Linked DNA regions of Homo sapiens. The protein of the gene in region 4 purifies or fractionates together with the protein of the main gene of each other region. This does not show direct contact. Each region holds a gene or a part of one and is shown on either strand. Other genes may lie near its edges.

Region 1 (3,591 bases), on a different chromosome or scaffold from region 4:
TCTTGACTGGAATACAAAAATGAAAAAGTTAAGTGGAGGGATAATGAATGACATTTAAAACCAAATTTTTCTCCTTACTCTTAACCACTTCTGATGTGAACAATTATAGATGTTCTTGTTTCTTGCTTTCTAGAATGGATACATCCTACAAAGATTTTTAATAAGAGAATCCTGTTTTCCCTACCAGGTGTTTTCAGAAAAACATCCCTGACAAACCAACCACATACCACACACACGCCCCTACACCTCTCCAAGATGCTCAGAACTTTTGGTTAGAAGGTAATAGATAAGTGGATATGCTGCATACAGTATTATACTTGCAACAGTGTAGAAAGCAGTACCTTTCCTCTAGTATCTTCTAATTTTGTTTCCCTTTTAACAGTTTTATGATCTGCCCTTTCCCATCATCCTCTCATACACCTAAAATCACTTCAATCTCAGGACTATATTATATCAACTTGTTTTTTAAAAACTGGAAAAATTCTATACTATTAAAATATTTCCAGAGCATAGAGAAAGATGGAAAGCTTCCAAATTCATTTTATAAGATCAGCATAATACTGATACTAAACCCAACAGGTATCACAATAGAAGAAGTAACAGGGATACGATACCAAAAGCAGAACTTCCCCTACCCTGCAAAAAAAAAAAAAAAAAAGAAAAAGAAAAAGAAAAGAGAAATGGGACTTTAACAAAATTAAAAACTTTTGTTTAACAAAAGATGCTATCAACAGAGTAAAAGGGCAACCCGCAGAATGGATGAAAGTATTTATAATCATATCTGATAAGGGGTAAATAGCTAGATTATATAAATAACTTATACAACTGGATAACAACCAAAAAACCTAATTATAAAAATGGGCAAAGGATTTGAATAGACATTTCTCCAAAGAAGATACACACAAATGCCCAAAAAATATCATAAAACATGAAAAAGATGTTTGTTCAGCATCACTAATTATTAGGAAATGCAAATCAAAACCACTAACAGCACTTCACACCTAGTTGGATTGCTATTATCAAAAAACAAAACAAAACAAAACAAAACCAGATAATCATAAGTGTTAGCTTGAATGTGGAGAAACTGGAATCCTTGTGCATTCCTGGTGGGAATGTAAAATGATGTAGTTGTTACAGATAACAGTATGGCAATCCCTCAATAAATTAAACAGAGTTACCACATGATCCAGCAATTCCACGTTTAGGTACATACTCAAAAGAACTGAAAGCAGGGACTTGAAGAGAGATTTGTACACACATGTTCAAAACAGGATTACTCACAATAACCAAAAGGTGGAAACAATGCAAATGCCCACCAGCAGATGAATGGATAAACAAAATGTGGTATATACATGGAGTATTATTCAGCCTTAGAAAATTCTTATAATATACTACATGGTTGAACCTTGGAGACAGTATGCTAAATGAAAAAAGTCATGAAAGAACATTTATTGTATGATTCCACTTAATGAGTTACCTAGAATAGTCCTATTTACAGGGACAAAGTAGAATAGTGGTTATCAGAAGCTAGAGGGTGGGAAATTGGGGAGTAATCGTTCAATGGGTATGGAGTTTCAGTTTGGGAAGATGAAAAAGTTCTAAAGATAGATAGTGGTGACAACAATGCAAATGTACCTAATGTCACTGAACTGTACAGTTAAAAATGGTTAGAATGGTAAGTTTTATGTTATGACAGCTGCTGGCAAGGTTGTGGAGAAAAAGGAACGCTTTTACACTGTTGGTGGGAGTGTAAATTAGTTCAACCATTGTGGAAGACAGTGTGGTGATTCCTCAAAGACCTAGAGGCAGAAATACCCTTTTACCTAGCAATCTCATTACTGGGTATATAACCAAAGGAATATAAATCATTCTACTATAAAGACACATGCATGTGTATGTTCACTGAAGCACTATTCACAAGAGCAAAGACATGGAATCAACCTAAATGCCCATCAATGATAGACTGGATAAAATGTGGTACATACAGACCATGGAATACTGTGCAGCCATGAAAAGGAACAAGATCACGTCCTTTGCAGAGAGATGGATGGAGCTGGAGGCCATTATCCTTAGCAAACTAATGCAGGAAAAGAAAACCAAATACCACATGTTCTCACTTATAAGTGGGAGCTAAATGATGAGAACACATGGACACATGTTGCGGGGAACAACACACACTGGGGCCTGTCGGAGGGTGGGGGTGGGAGGAGGAAGAGGATCAGGAAGAATAGCTAGTGGATGCTGGGATTAATACCTAGGTGATGGGATGATCTGTGCAGTAAGCCACCATGGCAAACGTTTACCTATGTAACAAACCTGCACATCCTGCACACGTACCCCTGAACTTAAAAGTTGGGGAAAAAAAGTTTTATGTTGATACATTTTACGATAAACAAAAAAGGGAAGTTATATATTCACCTAACTTAATATTACCTAAGATAAATGGATAAAATAGTCAATGTAATTTAGTAGTGTAGCCAAAGAATACATCAATTGTTGTTTTTTGAGACAGGGTTTCCTGTAGCCCAGGCTGGAGTACAGTGGTGCCATCTTGGCTCACTGCACCCTCCACCTCCCAGGCTCAAGCAATCCAACCACCTCAACCTCTGGAGTAGCTGGGACTACAAGCGCTCACTGCCACGCCCAGTTAGTTTCTGTACAACAGGGTCTCGCTATGTTGCCCAGGCTGGTCTCCAGCTCATGGACTCAAGTGATCCACCTGCTTTCAGCCTCCCAAAGTGTTGAGATTACAGGTGTGAGCCACCATGCCTGGCCAAAAAAATTTTTTTTTTCCACATAAAGGGAAGATGCCGATTTCTCATGTAGTTCCTAGGATTTTTCTTTTCTCCTTAACTCTTTCTTTGGATCTTTACAATGGTGTAAGTGAGTTGCAACTTTACCTTTGCTGCCACCATGTGACATTTATTGAGCATCTCCCATGCAGCAGACACTATACTAACCCAGGCATAAAAGCTGGAAAAACAGTCTCAAGCCTATCTCTAGCAGGTGAATCAAATACAGAGCTTATCACACAATATAGTCACCACAGGTTATTATGGCAACACCTAGGAAGAAAATCTAACTTAGCTCAGGGATTAGGGAGTTGGGGAAAAAAGGCAAAACCAGAGCAGGTTTTCCCAAAAAGTGGCCTGAACATGGTCTTAAAGACTCCCTGGAAACACCTGGAAAACACTGATGGACTTCACTTTCTTAATGTTTCTCACAAAGCTAGAATTGTTCCCATTTGTCATTAAGGCTCCTAAAAACACTTTCCCAAACAGCCTATGACACTAACTATACACAGCAAAATAATGAGAAGAAAGGAGACAAAAGGGTGTAAGGTGACAGCTGCTTTGTAGGGGTTTTTTGAGGGAGTGGATAGTTGGCATGATTTCCATTCATTGTCATTTTCACTCTTCCCTAGTAAACACAATGCTAGTCACACCAAATATTTCTCCACAAACCTAGGGCCTAAACATAGAATACCTTCTGCAGTATCTCAATGGCAACTGCCCAAAGGAAGACCTAAATGTGGATGCTCTAAATTATAGATAAGGTTAGACTATGAAGGCAAGGATCATGTCTCGTTCA
Region 2 (3,591 bases), on a different chromosome or scaffold from region 4:
ACAGGAACACAAACAAAAACGAACCACTTTAACAAAAAGGAAATTCTTCTACCCAGAAAATTGTCTTTACAAAGGGTCAATTTTACACATTAATATAAAATATTTACCATTTCATAGTCTGGTACTTCCATCCGTTTTTTCAAACTCTGTACAAGGGGAACTAGTGATTCCATTCTGGAAAAAAGCCATCCCACTCAATTAAACATCACAACCACCACAACTAAAATGATAATAGCAAATTATACATTATACTAACATTTACCATAATAACATGCTTCATATGGCACTTGGGAAATAAAAGATAAAGCTGTTCAAATATCTTAAAATATTAAGAAATAAATGTTTCCTGTTTTCTTACCCAAAAGATTACACATTGTGTTAAAGACTAAAAGTGAGCATTCAAGAAAATGAGATTTCTTCTTCAAAAATGGGAAGTTCTACTGACTTTAAAAATTATTTTGAGGCCAGGTGCGGTGGCTCATGCCTATAATCCCAGCACTTTGGGAGGCCGAGGCGGGCGGATCACTTGAAGTCAGGAGTTCGAGACCAGCCTGGCCAATGTGGTGAAACCCTGTCTCGACTAAAAATACAAAATTAGCCAGGTGTGGTGGTGCATGCCTGTAATCCCAGCTATTCGGGAGGCTGAGGCAGGAGAATTGCTTGAACCCAGGAGGCGGAGTTTGCAGTGAGCTGAGGCCGCACCATTGCACTCCAGCCAGGGTGACAAGAGTGAAACTGTCTCAAAAAAAAAAAAAATTATTTTGATTAGCAAGAAAACTAAGTGTTTTTAGCACACTGTGATGAAAAAAGGCTGTTTCCTGAAAGCTAAAAAAAAAAAAAAAAAATTAAGGACACGTTTATTTGTATATACAATTATTATTACTATTGAGACAGGATCTCACTACCACCCAGGCTACAGGGCAGTGGTGTGATCATGGCTCACTGCAGCCTCGAACTCCTGGGCTTAAGGAATCTCCCACTTCAGCCTCCCGAGTAGCTGGGACTATAAGTGAACACCACCACACCCAACTAATTTTAAAATCTTTTTGTAGAGATAGGGTCTTGCTATGTTGCCCAGACTGGTCTTAACTCTTGGCCTCAAGTAAGCCTTCCACCTTAGCCTCCCAAGTGTTGGGATTTTACAGGTGTGAACCCAGGCCTAGCCAGTAAATACAATTATAATCGGAAAAATCCTACATCATCTGATATAACATTGATGCATTTTTTTTTTTTTTGAGACAAGAGTCTCACTCTGTTGCCCAGGCTGGAGTGCAGTGGCACGATCTCGGCTCACTGCAAGCTCCGCCTTCCAGGTTCACGCCATTCTCCTGCCTCAGCCTCCCAAGTAGCTGGGACTACAGGTGCCCGCCACCACGCCCGGCTAATTTTTTTTATTTTTTAGTAGAGACGGGGTTTCACCGTGTTAGCCAGGATGGTTTCGATCTCCTGACCTCATGATCCGCCCGCCTTGGCCTCCCAAAGTGCTGGGATTACAGGCGTGAGCCATCGCGCCCGGCCACATTGATGCTTTTAAGGTATTAAGTTTAGGTGGACCTTTTGGAAGCTCTGATTGGCTAATGCTTCTAGTGTTTTAATTCCTCCTCCACAAATATTCACGAATTTGCTGGGAGTAAAAAAAGAAAGAAAAAAGGAGGCATGGAGGCCTGCCTGCTTGCCCACTTGTCCTGTTACTTTTTCCTTTTAATTAATGACATTTTCTAGGCTTCTGGACCCTAAACACCCACCTCACTTCCCTAGACATAGCGAAGCCTCCATGCCGAGGGTCTGGCTCTTTAGGGTCATGGTTGGTTTGGGGAGACTTTTCTTTCAGTGTCATCTACTTTTCCTTTATGCTATTTTTTTTCTCCCTTCAATACCAAGCACAGTCTAAACTCACTACTGTTGCAGTCTCATCATATTTTCAAGTCTGTGATAGAACTCTCTGCTGGTGATGAGGAGCTAACTGGGCATGCTCAGTAGGCAGAGTGGGTTTCAGTGGAAGTCTGTGGGCTGGACTTAGGATTCCAAGGTTTCCAGGCCTATTTTGTTGTTGTTGAAGTTTTAAACTTAGCTTGAGACTTCATGAAATAACAAAATAATAGGTATTTTTCAGTATTTCTAGGAAGACTCCTGTCCTGTGACTTATTTTTCTATCTCCCTCTTCTATCATTTCAAAAAACAGGGAATCATTTTAGAACCCTATACTGAAGAGGAAAAAGCATTAACTGATTTTTTTTTCTTTCTTTTTTTGAGACAGGGTCTCCCTCTGTCACCCAGGCTGGAGAGCAGTGGTGCGATCTCAGCTCACTGCAGCCTTGACCTCCCAGGCTCAAGTGATCCTCCCACCTCAGCCTCCCAAGTAGCTGGGGCCGCAGGTGCATGCCACCATGCCTGGCTAATTTTTTGTATTTTTTTGTAGAGACAGGATTTCACCATGTCACCCAGGCTGGTCTCGAACTCCTGAGCTCAGGCGATCTGCCCACCTTGGCCTCCCAAAGTGCTCAGATTACAGAGGTGAGCCACCACGCCCGGCCATTAACTGATGTTAAAGTGCCTAATCAATACTTACTGATGTGATTAATATTACTGTGAATTATTCTTCCACATCACTGCTTTGTTAGTGTCAATAATTAAAGCTTTATGATGTTTACATTTTAGGGATGTTTCTGAATATTTTAAGTAAAAATTACAATGAGTATTTTGAATAGATAATACGTGCACATAGCAAAAGAAGTAATTTCTCACTCATATACTTCATCATTTAGCCATAGAATTCCTCTCCCCAGAGGCAACCACTGTTTCAGCTTTTTCCATATTCTTCTAGAGATCTGCTGAATTATTTTTAATAACCAAAACATGACAAATCTTAGTGGCTGTTCATGTTCTGGCCTAAAGTACTATTGATTCTAATTTCCCGTTTTATCTTGCTACCTTACAACTGATTTTCTTTTGTTTACACCAGAGAGAATAATATGACAGTTCGTGGGAGATTAGTTTTAAAATAAGCTAGTTCTGGTTTTCCTATGCTCATGGGGACAAAAAGTTTGTCTGATGGTTTTATTTTAGTTTTCTGGCTGTTTGAGATTACATGATTTAAGAATTATTTTAGAGAAAAATCACTGTAATATTTATGTCAATATTCTTTCACTCCAGCTTCAATACCAAAGGCTTTCACTCAAAAAGAACTTCTCTCTCCATTCTTTCAAGGTGATATGAACAGCCAGTCAAATAAATTACCTGATGGAGAATCTAGCCTTCAAATACTGCTCCTTCACGTCAAGAGATTGAAAATACCCTTCCACTTGTGTTTGGGTTTTCCTTAAAAGAAGCTAAGTTTTCGCTTTTTTTTTTTGAGACGGAGTCTCAGAAAAAGTCCAGTCTCCACAGGCTGGAGTGCAGTGATGCAATCTCGGCTCACTGCAAGCTCCGCCTCCCGGATTCACGCCATTTTCCTGCCTCAGTCTCCCGAGTAGCTGGGACTACAGGCGCCCACCACTATGCCCGGCTAATTTTTTTTTTTTTTTGGTATTTTTAGTAGAGACTGGGTTTCTCCGTGTTGGCCAGGATGGTCTCGATCTCCTAACCTCATGA
Region 3 (3,591 bases), on a different chromosome or scaffold from region 4:
AGTACAACAAATATACCAATCCAACAGTCTTCATTTTCCTTTTCTGCCTTCCTCTACATTAGAGCAAACTATTTCACCTATGAGGCAAAGACATTAATTCAGAAATGGGAAAAGGCCATCTAAATATCAGTTACAATAACCAGTAGAAGACTGAACATATCCATATCGTGCTTAATGTAGGAATGTTTGCTTACGTGCCCAAGTTAATAGTTGAGCAGAAGTCACAACAAATTATACTGCACGTACTCAACTGTGGCTCTGACCACATAGGATGCAGCTCCCCTTCCAGTAACAGCTACTTGGAGATAGTTAACAGTAAGCAATGCAAACACAAACTGAAAAGGTTATCTCCAGCCAGAAAAGAGGGAAACATGAAACCATCTGCCTTATTTGTTAGAGTTCTCCAGTTTTACATGCCTTCTGAATCACTCTGGGCAAGCTAAGTAACATACTGAGGGTTGATTCCTTAGCAAACTTGAATTACTGGCTAAAAAATGTTATCATTTGGCAAATGTCGATAATTTGAGTATTTCACATTTCAAGGGATACTGAGATTGCAGCTTTACAAAGAACTCTTGCCTTCTCTGCATTTATAGTAAATATTGTATCTCTTGTTGGTATTGACCTTTCTTCCCCTAGTTCTGCTTCTTTTCTTTTTTTTTTTTTTTTTGAGATGGAGTCTCACTCTTGTTGCCCAGGCTGGAGTGCAATGGCAGGATCTTGGCTCACTGCAACCTCCGCCTCCCGGGTTCAAGCAATTCTCCTGCCTCAGCGTCCCAAGTAGCTGGGATTACAGGCACGCACCAGCACACCTGGCTAATTTTGTATTTTTAGTAGAGACGAGGTTTCTCCATGCTGGTCAGGCTGGTCTCCAATTCCCAACCTCAGGTGATCCGCCCGCCTCGGCCTCCCAAAGTGCTGGGATTACAGGTGTGAGCCACAACACCTGGCCTAACTTTTCTGGGTACTACTTAGCAACTTTTTCATTGTCCCAGTTGCATCTTTGTCTTCTCACCAATGACTTACAAGCCTGTTAGAGGTTTTGTTTCTACCCCATAGTTCCTCTTTGGAAGATATTCCCCCCTAGTATTAAAAAACATTATTCTGGATGGACTAGTTGCCAAGTTGGCACTATGGGAATTAGAAAAGCTTAAATAGTTGTACCTTTCTATGAATCATTTGGCTTTAACTTTTTTCAGAGAAACATTGAATTCTGGGTCACTTTGTGACTGAGTACTTAGCAAAAGTTGCACAATATGGTGAAGAAACAGAAAATTGCTCCTCTAACACATAAAAAAAGCTATTTTCATGTGATTTATCCTGGGAGTTTGGTGATGTGCAACCCTTGGATTTACGCATTTGGTCTGGAAATGCTCCCTAACTAGAAATCAATACTTCACATCTCTTTATTCTGAACTCACCAAATACTTTTTTCATGTTTCTCAATCCATTTTCTAAATTCAGTTTTCTGTACTTCTGATGTGCCATTTGCATAAAGCCAGAGCAGTGGGGCCTGCCCTATGCTCTGTCCCAAAGCCCAGCTGGAACTGACTCTGGGGCATGCAAGGTAAGCAATCGAGGCATGAGAATGTGCATCCCTGGCCTCTTACCGCCTACCTGAAAGGAAATCACCAACACTCTGGCCAATCTGCTGCTATGAGAGTAGGTAAGAGGAGTCCTCCGGGTAATCAAAATCTAATCTAAATCAAGGCTTTATCAACCTAAGTTAGCAACTGCAGTTCTACAACTTGTACAAATTCAGACAGTGAGGCAAAGATGCTCCATTCCCAACTCCGGGCAGCACACAGAGGTTGGGCTGCTGGGTAGTGGGAGAGCTGGGGCCTGGGGTCTTTAGGGTGGGCTGCAGGGAGATCTCCTATAAGAATCTGCAACCAGATCCAGATCAGAATCAAGGGAGCAGCAGCGGCATCACGTATCCGTGTATGGTCTCATCACTGCCACTGTGGCAAGAGGACCTCCACATGAGCTACACTGGTGTAGAACTTTCTGTCCTTTCCATCTACTGCCAGTGATTGTTTCACCTCATCTAATGGATAATAAAGTTAGTTAACTATAATTTAATATAGTTAAATGAGAATAAATGAAGTGAGAAAAAAAGGACCTCCATGAGACACAATGCTATTACTGTTCTGTTAGACACATACTAGTCCCAAAGGCCTCTAATCCCTCACTTTTGATCATCAGGACGTCCATCAGGGCCTGAGTCCTCTTCTGCTTTCTTCTCTTAATGTCTCTAGGACCACCAATCCTGAAGCTACTGCCAAGGTCCCAATCACTCCCTTTAATTTCAGTACCAGAAAAACAGAATCTACAAGTTTAAAGGAATCTAAAGAACCACCAATTCACCCAAAGGTGAATTCAACACATTCAGTGTTGAATTCATCAGCACAAGCTCATGGTTTTTAAGTTTGCAAGTCTTAATGGTTTCAACAACATTCCTGTAAAATGCCTAGCCTGAGTATGCCCCTAAGGCAGCTATCCCACCCAAAGTGAGCCAATATATCAGAATCCATTACTGAGGAGTGAGGTCCCTTCTGAATCAAATATCACACATCCCTGGATAACAATTCACATACATCTTGGTTTTGAGTGAATACAGGTAGAACCTACCAGCAGAAAATGGTGAACAAGTTTACTCAGTCAATAGAAGTACAGATGTTCTAAGTCATACATCTTTTAGAATCTAAGTTAATTCTTTTTCATATCTTTTCATATCTTTTTCACCTCACTGACCCATCCATTCATGGGAAATTTCAGGACAAAAACTAGAGAAGGAGAAATAAGCAAAATATACACTTCTAGAGATGTTTTTCTCTCTCTTTTAGGATCGTTCATAACCTGTCTGCAAAAAATGTAATAAGAAAAGATTCTATAAACATATGGGAAATTGTCCTCTGTTTCTGCACCAAAGACAGGTGAAATCTTTAGGACCTTTGTAAAGCTTGGCTCTGAAGAAAGACTTTTTTCTTGAAAGGTTTAAAACTCTGAAGAACAAGAAAACAGTCTCGCAAACTCTTAAAACAACAACAACAAAAACCAAGTTGTTTCCAAAAGAAACCAACCAATGCTCCCACTATCTAAATTAGTTTAGGATAGATCCATTTTCTTATTTGAGTACCATTTTGATTTTTCTCACTTTGAAGATACATGTCGTCCCAATTAACAGAAAATAAGCCTAATTCATTGAAATAATTGAGAAATTAAAAATGACAAGAGAAACCATTGCTAGGTATTAATATAACATATAACATATAACAATTCTTGCTCTTGAAGATGATAAATTCTAAAACTCAAGAAGTAGATTAAAAAAATTTTTTAAACTGCAGTGTGGATTAGCAATTCTGAAACTACAATATGAATTGTTCTTTTGAGTATCTTTACTTGTTCAATCTGAGAACAGGTAAAGATAGTGTGAATAACACGAAGCCCTGTTTCTCATAGAGAAGTTATGGATATGAAAACTGGGAAGGCTAGAATAAACCCTGTAGTGCTAAACTGGAATCAGAGGCATCAGTACAAACTCATGGTTTTTAAGATATAGAAAGAGAGATAAAAAATATGAGAGGTAAG
Region 4 (4,266 bases):
GTGTTTCAGAAAGAACTAAAGGTCTCACAATCCTCCAAAGTCCACATGTGTAGGCCAAGCCCCTCAAGGCAATTAAAGGAATAGGAAAATGTACCCACAGCTGATTTCAGCATGAAAGCACGTGGTGTCCAGAGTCTTTTAAATCCTTAAAGCAAAACACCTGGATTCTGTTCCAGGCCGCCCCGCTCCCCACCCAGCTCCAAGCACCTGTTTCTATCTGACCAGCCCTCCGACTTTCTACCCCTCCCCGCTCAGAAGAGGCAAGAATTTTTAAATTCTGATTTTGTTTGTATAAAGATAGTAAGAAACATTCCGTGAACCAGGAATCATAAGGCTGCACCCCTGTGAGATCTCCCCCAAGAAAGTCCCTTCCATTCTCAGAGAATAAAATCGAAACACCAAATGGATGGAAACACAGTAACCACACCGTCCCTGGCAGGGCCGCCCCTGGCTGTACCTGAATTTCCTGTGTGTGGACTGTACCGGATCTACGGAGTCTGTGGCTCTTTCAGCTCCTTCTTCATCATCCGGTGCAGCCTTTGTGCTCTGGAGACCCTCAAATCAGTACGGGGGGCGAGCGCTGTGGCTCACGCCTGTAATTCCAGCAGTTTGGGAAGCCCAGGCGGGCAGATAACTTGAAGTCAGGAGTTCTAGCCCAGCCTAGCCAACGTGGTGAAACCCCGTCTCTACTAAAAATACAAAAAATTAGCCGGGCGTGGTGGCGGGCGCCTGTAGTCCCAGCTACTCGCGAGGCTGAGGCAGGAGAATCGCTTGAACCCGGGAGGCAGAGGTTGCAGTGAGCCGAGATCCCCCACTGCACTCCAGCCTGGGCGACAGAGCAAGACTCCGTCTCAAAAACAAAAACAAACAAAATCAGGAAGGGGACTTTGAAGCTCCTTAATACTGAGGCTTGGAGGGGCCCTAGCATGGGAGTTGGGCAACCCAGCGCTTCCCCTTTGAGGAGTGGCTCTAGAAATCGCCTTCCACAGTCCACAGGGAAGGGCTTTAGCCACGATCCAGGACTGAGTCCTCCATAGGGTGTGGGTGAGCCCCACGGCTGGGCCCAGCCCCCCGAAGACCACCGGGTAGCCTCGCTCCCGCCTCCCACCCCAGCCTCGCCCTCCAGCCCCGCCACGGGAGGGGCCGCCTGAAGGAGACCCGCACCTGGGCCTGGGCTCCTGGCTGGGGGGAGCGGAGCAGGCGGCGCCCAGGCCCGGGTCCTCCCCGCCCTCGCAGCTGCCCCAGCCGAGCCTCCCGGGCCGGCCTCGCCCTGGGGGTGGGGGTGGGGGTGAGGGGGCGCAGCCTCGGGCTACGGCTCCCCCGGCCCGGCCCGGCCCGTGCGGGCTGCACACCTGCCCGCCCGGCGAGGCTTCATTAGGCCGCGCCTGTGCATCACGGGCCGGCCGCGGCGGCGGGAGTCCAGGCCATGGAACCCACAGAGAATCCCTGCCAGGGACCGCTGGGTGAGTGTGGAGACCCCGTCGTGCGAGGGGGTCAGGCTTTGGGGGTTCGGGGAGGGGGGGAGGCCTGTGATCACCAGGTCAGCGTTAGCCGACCTAAGAGCTTCAGTAGGCCGAGGGCCGGGTGGAGTCGGGTGGGGTAGGGTGGGAGGAGGCCGACCTCACTGCCCCCTGTGCTTTGGGATTGCAACCCCCCTCCCCGCTCCCCCGCGCCCCCTGCCCGCCTCCAGTCTCCCAGCGCGCAGGGGAGAGAACCCTGGGAGCCCCAGGACCCTTCTAGTCTTAGGTCTGACACCCGTCCCCTTCTTACTAGCGCACATCACTCCCATAGGACACGTGCTTACGGAGCACCCACAGTGCTGGGTACCAGGCTTTTTGCTACAGTACAAGCTCTCCTAAAATGCTGTAAAACAAATTTGTCCCTGCTTCCCCACACCACCAGCCAGCTTTGTCCCTTCACTCCATAGAGGCCTGCTCACCCTCTTCACCAGCCCAGACCCTCTCATGCAAGTCGGGTCCAGCCTGTGTCCTAGGAAAGGACTTGGAACAGCACCCTTGACCATGACCTTTTTCCTTGACACTCTGTTACAAAGTCATTCCTAGGGTCAGGCGCAGTGGCTCAAGTCTGTAATCCCAGCACGTTGGGAGGGCGAGGCTGGTGGACCACCTGAGGTCAGGAGTTGGAGACCAGCCTGGCCAACATGGCAAAACCCCATCTCTACTAAAAATACAAAAATTAGCTGGGTGTGGTGGCACACACCTGTAATCCCAGCTACTTGGGAGGCAGAGGCACGAGAATCGCTTGAACCCAGGGGGCCAAGGTTGCAGTGAGCCAGAATTGCACCATGTCACTGCAGCCTGGGCGACGGAGCGAGACTCCATCTCAAAAAAAAAAAAAAAAAAAAAAAAAATGTTATTCCTTAAGACCTATCTCATGCAATTTTCATTAAAGTAACAGTAGCTCTTAGTCGTTACTTAGCATTCATTACAAATGTTCCAATTTAGTTGGAAATGATAAAGCAGCTCCCTGAGCTGAGGGTTCTTGGAGTTATGAGTCAGTTGGGAGGTGAAAGTGGGGGGATCATTTGATGGCCCCAGGAAGGACTCCATGTGGTGATTAAGTACACAGAGTACGTGCTCAGGGTGCTGTGTGATCTTGGACATATTACTCTGCTGTCTCATCCTCATTTCTTCATCTGTTAGAAGGGAATATTAGCAGTGCCGTTCTTGCAGAGATTAAATATGCACTGTGCTAATCTTTGAAAGGTGCTTAGCGCCATGCCTGGAACATGATAAGCTCCCAATGCATCAGTCAGCTCACAGAAAGGAAGGCAAGCTTTAGGGATGAGTGGTAGGGTTTTTAGTTCTAGCTGGGTCCCAGTTTCCTTACTCGAAAGAGAGGTTTACCAGAGAGTGAGATCCTGCTTTGCAGGGAGGGGGAGGAAGTGGATGTGCTGGATGGTAGTGGGGTGGGGGGTGCGGGCGGGGGGGCATGTATGGAGCTGAGGAGAGTTGGCAGAGACAGAGTTCCATGGTTCTCCCTGTTATCTCTTTTGATGCTCTTGCCTCGGCTGCTGGAGACAATCGAATCCTTTCTTGTCCCTTCTCCAAGCAATAATGCCTGTTGTGCAGCAGAAACAGCATCCCGCCTTGGGAGAAGCAGAATCTCTGTCAATCTGTTTCTCTTTGTCTTCCTGGTCCATCCGCAGCCCCAACATGATCCCTTAGAGATACCTGAACAGTCCCTCAAACTCATACCCCTGGTGTCTGGGAAAAGGGAACTCACAAGGGGTGAGTACCCCCAAATTAGGAGATACCATGAGCTAACGCCGTCTCAGAATTGCATAAATTTGTCTACATTTTTCAAAGAAGTTGGGTTATCTGATTTAATCCTCACAATAGTCAAGCTAGGAAGGTAAGTGTGGAATTATTACCCCATTTGATAGGTAGACAAATTAAAGCTTAAGATCAAACCGTTTGCAAAGCAGGAAGCAGCACTTCCTCTTGGTCCAGTTCTTCCTTCTCCCTGGTGCTAAGGTCAGTGGATGTTGGCTCCCCACAGGCCAGAAAGCTGGAGAGAAGCCCCTGGCTGCAGGACCCGGGGAGGAGGAACTGCTCCGGGGCTCAGCCCCTCATGCTCAGGACACTCAGAGTGAGGAACTGCCACCCTCCTGCACCATCTCAGGAGAGAAGAAGCCGCCAGCAGTCTCTGGAGAAGCCACCGGGGCTGATGCTGGGAGACTGTGCCCGCCCCCCCGCTCCAGGGCTCCCCACAAAGACAGAACTCTAGCCCGCTCCAGGCCCCAGACTCAGGGGGAAGATTGTTCCCTCCCAGTGGGAGAGGTGAAGATAGGAAAGAGGTCCTATTCTCCAGCCCCCGGGAAGCAGAAAAAGCCTAATGCCATGGGTCTGGCCCCAACATCATCTCCGGGTGCCCCTAACTCAGCCCGTGCCACACACAACCCAGTGCCCTGTGGGTCAGGCCGGGGGCCCTGCCACCTGGCCAATCTCCTCAGTACATTGGCGCAGAGCAACCAAAACAGAGACCACAAGCAGGGGCCCCCGGAAGTGACCTGCCAAATTAGGAAAAAGACACGAACCCTATACCGCTCAGGTAAGTCCCTAAAGAGAGGAAACCGAAGAGATCTGGGGTCATCCTGGGGAAAGGTGGGGCTGTGTGAAGAATCTACCCCCAGGAGACCTGAGGGATGGGGTTAGTTTGTATGTCACTTCGTCCCGGATTCTCTCTTGGGCCGCGGTAGTGCAACTATCTCTGACCCTCAGAGGGAAGGTTGGGTTATCACAT

Evidence for each region.
Region 1: the proteins of NOBOX (region 4) and CCNJ purify together in Homo sapiens (affinity purification with mass spectrometry; one large-scale study listed by BioGRID and IntAct). This does not show direct contact.
Region 2: the proteins of NOBOX (region 4) and C5orf22 purify together in Homo sapiens (affinity purification with mass spectrometry; one large-scale study listed by BioGRID and IntAct). This does not show direct contact.
Region 3: the proteins of NOBOX (region 4) and DHX32 purify together in Homo sapiens (affinity purification with mass spectrometry; one large-scale study listed by BioGRID and IntAct). This does not show direct contact.

The regions. Positions count from the first base shown.
Region 1 is NC_000010.11:96,046,549-96,050,139, reverse strand, and holds part of CCNJ (cyclin-J), read right to left. Parts: intron 1-3,591.
Region 2 is NC_000005.10:31,542,229-31,545,819, reverse strand, and holds part of C5orf22 (UPF0489 protein C5orf22), read right to left. Parts: intron 175-3,591; coding exon 108-174; intron 1-107.
Region 3 is NC_000010.11:125,871,210-125,874,800, forward strand, and holds part of DHX32 (putative pre-mRNA-splicing factor ATP-dependent RNA helicase DHX32), read right to left. Parts: intron 1-3,591.
Region 4 is NC_000007.14:144,400,854-144,405,119, reverse strand, and holds the start of NOBOX (homeobox protein NOBOX), read left to right. Parts: upstream 1-1,426; coding exon 1,427-1,463; intron 1,464-3,169; coding exon of another isoform or gene 3,170-3,251; intron 3,252-3,522; coding exon 3,523-4,074; intron 4,075-4,266. UniProt on the Homo sapiens protein: Transcription factor which may play a role in oogenesis. Binds preferentially to the DNA sequences 5'-TAATTG-3', 5'-TAGTTG-3' and 5'-TAATTA-3'.